Linked DNA regions of Homo sapiens. The protein of the gene in region 1 purifies or fractionates together with the protein of each later gene. This does not show direct contact. Each region holds a gene or a part of one and is shown on either strand. Other genes may lie near its edges.

Region 1 (3,500 bases):
ACAGATATATAAGGAAGAGAGAGAGGAGGGGGCCCACGGAACCCCAGGGAATGGCAAAATTAAAGGAAGTGAGCTGGAGGTGATGAACCGAAGAAAAGCCTCAGGATAAGGAGGGGGAACAAAGTGCAGAGTGAAGGGAACCATGTTTCAAGGAGGGGTTACAGTCAATAGTGCCCAATGGTCAGAAAACCAGGAAGTGTCCGTTACAGTAGATAGCTAGTCAGGCATGAGCAGGGCAGGAGAGGGCTCCCCGACCCACAACAGGAAGGCGACCATCACGTGATGGTCAAGCAGTTGTTAACTGTGTCGCTAAAATACTAATTGGTCACAGCTGGTGCCAAGGGACGGCAGTCTCTCAATAGATACAAAAACCTGAAACTGGTGATCAGCTTCCCAATAAGATCTCGGGAGTTGGGTGAGTCGGCTCAACCATGCACACTAAGAGGCAAAATGGCAGAGCTTAATTGGTGTATGTCCTTCTAGGAAAACTGGGACTGGTATGGGAAGAATGCCTCACGTGAGCATGCGCAAAACTCCGGTAAACACACTGAGCATGCTCCCCTCCCCAACACTGGCGGGCCACTGCGCATGCGGGCAGCCCACCCCAAGGGAAGAATCCGGGGAGACGGGATGCAAGTCCCTGGAAGTATGCCAACATCTAAAACCCAAATTCCAAGGTCAAACCACACACTTTCTCTCAGGTCACCAGCTTGGCCCTCTTACAAGTGTACTTTACTTCCTTCCCTTCCTACTCTACACTTAATAATAAACTTTCTCTCCTGCTCTAAAACTTGCCTCCGTCTCTCCTTCTGCCTTAGGCCCCTCAGTCGAATTCTTTCTTCTGAGGAGGCAAGAATTGAGGTTGCTGCAGACCTGTACAAATTTGCTGCTGGTAACACATCCATTGGATTTAGCACAGGGAAGCTATCAGTGACCCAAGCAAAACCAGCTTCAGAGGAGAGGCTGGAAAGGGGGCCCCAGTGCAATAGTGGAGGGAACATGAAGGCACTGGAGGAAGGCAGAGGGCAGGGGATACTGTGAGGGAAGGGAGGGAGTGAAGCACTGGGTCAGTGGATGGGCCTTTTAAAAATGCAGGTGAAGAAACTGAACACCCAATGGATATGGAAGACCATGCCAATGAAAGTTTGCAGACAGAGGGAGAGGCCATGTCTGGGGGAGTTCCTAAGAAACTAGGGAGGTTGGCTAAGGGACTGCCCCTAGAGAGGGAAGGGACATGACTTCCACGGGTGGGAGGAGAGCAGGCAATCGCCAGAGAAGGCGCAGGCAAGCTGGCCAATTGCGACAGAGCAGGAGCTGAAGGAGTTCTTCCTCCACAGCCCCTACTGTCTGTGAAACAGGAAGTGGTGTCCTCTCAAAGTGCTAGGATTATAGGTGTGATCCACCGTGCCCAGCCAATTTTTTTCTAAAGACAGAAAAAATGTCTTGCTCTCTCACTCAGGCTGGAGTGCAATGGCGGGATCATGGCTCACTGCAGCCTCAAACTCCTGGGCTTAAGCAGTCCTCTTGCTTTGGCCTCCTAAATTGGTGGGATTACAGGCACGAGCCACGGTGCCCAACCACGTGAGGTTGGGAACTACTGAAAGTTTTCAGGAAAAAGAGTTGAATGAAGAAAGCCATATTTGGGGCAGACTGGCAATGACATTCAGAATTAGATAAGGAAGAGACAGCTGGAGTCACTGGGAGGTGGTGGGTTTTAAGAGGAAAGGTGGGATAACTCATTGGACAAGCATGAGCTACCTGGACCATTTTTTTCCTTCAGGTTCCCAACCCTGCCATAACCTCTTTCTGGACATAAATACATATTGCATTCTTCATATTGCCTGGCACTGGGTCATATGTATTCTTCTCAAGAAACATTTGAAACTTGACCATACGTCAATCAAGATTGCAAACTGCATTGTACAGATCTGAAAACCTGCACTGTTTTTTTGTAATCCCAGCACTTTGGGAGGCCAAGGTGGGTAGGTCACCTGAGGTCAGGAGTTCAAGACCAGCCTGGCCAACATAGCAAAACCCCGTCTTCACTAAAAATACAAAAATTACCCAGGTGTGATGGCGCATGCCTATAATCTCAGCTACTCAGGAGGCTGAGGCAGGAGAATTGCATGAACCTGGGAGGCAAGGGTTGCAGTGAGCTTAGATTGCACCGCTGCACTCAAGCCTGGGCAACAGAGTGAGACTCCAGCTCAAAAAATAATAATAATTATAAGAATAAAAAATAAAATAAAATTTTAGTAAGTTTTGGTAAGCTAAAACATTACATCACAGCAGAATAAAAAACTCACCTTTCTAATGTCCTCATACAGACCTTTCAAGTCTCTCCAACCGAGTTTGAAAGGATCGGTGTATTTTTCACCACTGTGTGTTTTACTGTCTGGGGTTGTGTGATGAAACCTGGGACATGCAAAAATGCACATGACTTCATTTTCAAGTAAGTTTTATATACATATATATTTAGTAGACTCAGATACGGAAAATTCAGCCCAAATATTTGCTAGAAATTAATCATGAATCTGAAAAGGTCATTATAATTTGGAAAAACATACAGAATTCTATTCTTGCTAAATGACAGATCAATAGATCACTTTTATAAATAGGGCCTTGAGAACCCACAAAATCAAAGAAAAACTAAACTATGTTCATTGTGCTCTGGGTTGAGCTCAAACTTTATTATATTCCTGTTTTTTGAATAGGCAGAGATCTACAATTTAGAATAGAAATTTACAGGCAATATAATTAATAATTTTAGGCCGGGTGCTTATGTCTGCAATCCCAGCACTTTGGGAACCTGAGGGTGGGAGGATAGCTTGAGGCCAGCAGTTCAAGACCAGCCTGGGCAACACAGTGAGCTCCCCATCGCTACAAAAAAAATTTTTTAAACAACAATAAATTTAAAAATGGATAATTTTAGTAGTTGCAGTATGGACTGTAAACTTACCGTGATATACGACATACATTTGGACAGGCAGATGTTAAATGCTTCACAAGATTAATATAGGGTATCTATAAAATAAAAATGTCAAGAAACTTGTAAGAATATTCCTGAAAAACTGTAACATTGGATGATAAAACCCCCATAATTATAATCTTTATCTTCTAATCACCCATTTACAGGTAGATTGCAAACTTTAGAGGAAGAATAATTTTAAAGTTTCCTTTTGTTATTACAAAATACTTGTCATTGCAGAAAACATAAATAAGAAAAAAGGAGAAAATAAAAACCATCTTCAGTCCATCCCTTCCCCCAAAGAAAGCCATTTCCATATTCATATCTATCTTTCCAGACCTGAAAATTAGTTTTAAAACAATTTCCTTCCATTTAACTAAGATTGGTCAGAGGAAAAAAGATTTCAATAGCAAGGAAGGAATTTATATTTATACAAACACTGTCTATTTTAAGTTCGTGTTCCTCAACATCCTTTGGAAATGGGAGAACAGAGTTTGAAAGCACACAAACCAGGGTGTTAAAAGTAGTTATT
Region 2 (3,500 bases), on another chromosome or scaffold:
AGGGCCTGTCTTACTGTTTTCGGTCCCATGTGGGAGTCTTCTCTATTAGACTGTGAGCTTCCTGCAAAACTGCATGACTTTTTCCATTTTCCTGACATCAGAGCTTGGTGCAAAAAGAGGACTCTGTAGAGGCGCAGTTACGTGATTGACTGACTGACTGATTTTGCCTGGGAACACTCACAGGTTCTTCCCTCCATAGCCCCTAAGCGCCGTTTAGTGCATTGCTGTGCCAAGTTGCTCCCTTCTTTTGCACAGAATGGAGCATTTCCCCTTTGGGAAACTTACCAAGGCTTCTCTCCAAAGAACTCTTCTCCTTCTCCTTGGGCAGAAAGTTGTTTACCTTTCTTAACACTTCAGTGCTTAAAACTACAGAATATCAAAACTAAAGAAACCATAGAGACGATCCAGCTTTTCGCTCTTTTCTTTTTCTTTTTACTATTGTGGTAAACCACGTATAATGTAAAATTTGCCATCACTATAGAGACATTTGGTACATTCACAATGTTGTGCAATCTGGTTCTAGAATATTTTCATCATTCCAAAAAGAAATCCTATACCCATTAGCAGGTACTGTACATTCCCTCATCTTCCCAGTTCCTGGCAACCACTAATCTGCTTTCTATCTCTATGGATTTGTCTATTCTGGACACTTCACATCAGTAGACTCATATAATATGTGGTCTTATGTAACCATCTTCTTTCACTTACCGTAACATTTTCAAGGTTTGCCCGTGTTGTAGTTGTGGCATGTGTCAGCATTTCATTCCTTTTAATGGCCTTTTCTTTTCTTTTATTTTTTTGAGACAGGGTCTCACTCTGTTGCCCAGGCTGGAGTGCAGTGGCGTGATCTCGGCTCACTGCAACCTCTGCCTCCCGGGTTCAAGCGATTCTCCTGCCTCAGCCTCCGGAGTAGCTGGGGCTACAGGTGCCTGCCACCACGCCCGGCTAATTTTTGTATTTTTTTTTAGTAGAGACGGGGTTTTACCATGTTGGCCAGGCCAGTCTCAAACTCCTGACCGCAGGTTATCCGCCTTCCTCGGCCTCCCAAAGTTAATGGCCTTTTTACGGTCATCCCACATTTTGTTTCTCTACTTGTTGGTAAACATTCGGATTGTTTCCACCTTTCAGCTCTTTGCTTTTTGAAGTGCAGTCTGTGGACCAGCTGCATGAGCATCACCTGGAATCCTGTTAGAAATGCAGAATCTCAGGCCCTCCCCCTAGAAATGCTAAATCAGAATATGCAGGGTCACATGATTTCCCAGGCATTTCAAGTCTGAGATGCGCTGCCCCAGCCACGGGATTCTCAGCCTTGGCTGTACGTGGAAATCACCTACTGACTTGTTTTCCTTAGTACTGATGTTTATTCGATCCTATAAGTGGTCCATGTGTTCTGTTTGAATGAGAAAATACTTGGTGAGCACCAAAACAAGAGTAAAGCTGACTACTTCCCTTCAAATGTCCAGCCTGGCAACCAGGGCACCTACACACTTATTTGAAGGCTACAGGGAAGTGGGGAGCTCCAATACACATGGAACTGGATTTGTGCTCAGAAACTCTGAATTTTAGTTCTGCTGTGCCCCTTACTGGCTGTGTAACCTCTCTGAGCTTCTTTCTTCTTTTGAGGAAAATGGGGATAATGGTTTATCTCCTTGTTCAGGAAAAGAAGACATCCACAACCAGCCAACACCAGATCTATCTCCTTGGCAGCATCCACACTCACTTACTTTGCCTTCCCACCTCTTAACCATAGAGGAGCTTCCTATGTGCCTCTCTAAAGCCTATCCCCTCCTACTGGTATAATATACCCTCTCTTTTTGCCTACACAAGGTCACACAAGTTTTTTGCTACACTGCTCCAGCAATTCTCCCCTCTCTGTCCTGCAACAGAGAGAGGTTAAATGAGCTGTACACGCAGGTAACAACAAAGTCTCACATCTCTAGGTTGTCCTAACATTTCTTACAATAACTTTTTAAAGGGGTACCACTATTGAATATTTATATATCAATGGCCTTGCACGAAAAGAATTTTTTTTTAATTTTGAAAATTAAGGATTGAAATCATGTATACTAGGTGGTTTTGTGGTTTTCAGTCTTTAACTTTTTATTAATATGACCCAAAGCCAGAAAAACATGAAATACTTCTGATCCCATTTCCTATAAGCTACCATCTTGTTTCTTTGTTCCCCTCCGTAGAAAAACATTTGAGCTAGTTGTCTATAAGTAACTGCCTCCATCTTTTCTTCTCTCATTCTTATTCCCACTCCAGTCTGGCTCTCCATTTTAACCAAATCTGCTCTTGTCAAAATCAATGACCTCTGCATTGCTAAATCCAATGCTCAGTTCTCAGTTCTCAATTTATGGGAAGCATTTACTGCTCATCACTCCCTCTTCCTCAGTGGACTTTCTCGGCTTCCAGGGTACCACACTTTCCTGGTTTTCAAGGACATTGGTGGTCTCTCATTCTCTACCTCCCCAGCCTCTTAATTTTGGGGGGCCCCAGGGCTTAGTCTCTGGTCTCTTCTCTACCTATATTCACTGCCTTCATTATTTCATCCTACCTCCTGATTTTTAAAAATGCCATATGTAAGGCCGGGTATGGTGGCTCATGCCTGTAATCCCAGCACTTTGGGAGGCCGAGGTGGGAGGATCACAAGGTCAGGAGATCGAGACCAACCTGGCTAACACAGTGAACTCTCGTCTCTACTAAAAATACAAAAACTTAGCCGGGTGTGGTGGTGGGTGACTATAGTCCCAGCTACTCGGGAGGCTGAGGCAGGAGAATGGCGTGAACCCAGGAGGCGGAGCTTGCAGTGAGCCGAGATCACGCCACTACACTGCAGCCTGGGCGACAGAGCGAGACTCCATCTCAAAAAATAGATAAATAAATAAAAATTTAAAAATTTTTTAAAAAGCCATATGTAGTCAGACACTTCCAAATTTATATCTCAGTCTGGGTTTTTCTCCCCAAACTCTAGATTTGTATATTACTATTTACTGCATCTTCACTTGAATGCTTGATAGACATCTTAAATGTAACACATCTGAAATGGAATCCTCTCTGCCACAGCTTGGCCCATCTCAGTTGATGGCAACTCTATCTTTCCAGTTGTTCAGGCCAAAATCTCAGGTTCACTCTCGACTTCTCTTTCCCTCCGCATTGCTACCCTGGTATGAACCATCATCTTCTCTAGCCCAGATGCTGCAGCAGTCTCCTAAACGGTCTTCCTACTTCTCACCTTGCCCCCTACAGTCTATTCTCATCACAGAGGTCAACGTGATCCCTTAAAAATACAAGTCAGATTGTTTGGCTCCTCTGTTCAGATCTCTGTACTGATTCTTGCCCCATTTTATGCAAACTCAAAACTACAGTGGCTTTAGAGATCTATGTCATCTTTGCCTCCCTTCTTATCTCATCACCTCTTTGATCTCATGTACTACTCCTGTTCAGCTCACTGGCCTCCTGATTGTTTCTTGAGCATACCATGCCTTAGGGCCTTTTCA

What was found. The genes of interacting proteins can lie anywhere in the genome.
Region 2: the proteins of PDSS1 (region 1) and XAF1 purify together in Homo sapiens (affinity purification with mass spectrometry; one large-scale study listed by BioGRID and IntAct). This does not show direct contact.

The regions. Positions count from the first base shown.
Region 1 is NC_000010.11:26,704,201-26,707,700, reverse strand, and holds part of PDSS1 (all trans-polyprenyl-diphosphate synthase PDSS1), read right to left. Parts: intron 3,025-3,500; coding exon 2,960-3,024; intron 2,416-2,959; coding exon 2,307-2,415; intron 502-2,306; exon of another isoform or gene 373-501; intron 1-372. UniProt on the Homo sapiens protein: Heterotetrameric enzyme that catalyzes the condensation of farnesyl diphosphate (FPP), which acts as a primer, and isopentenyl diphosphate (IPP) to produce prenyl diphosphates of varying chain lengths and participates in the determination of the side chain of ubiquinone.
Region 2 is NC_000017.11:6,762,546-6,766,045, forward strand, and holds part of XAF1 (XIAP-associated factor 1), read left to right. Parts: intron 1-3,500. UniProt on the Homo sapiens protein: Seems to function as a negative regulator of members of the IAP (inhibitor of apoptosis protein) family. Inhibits anti-caspase activity of BIRC4. Induces cleavage and inactivation of BIRC4 independent of caspase activation.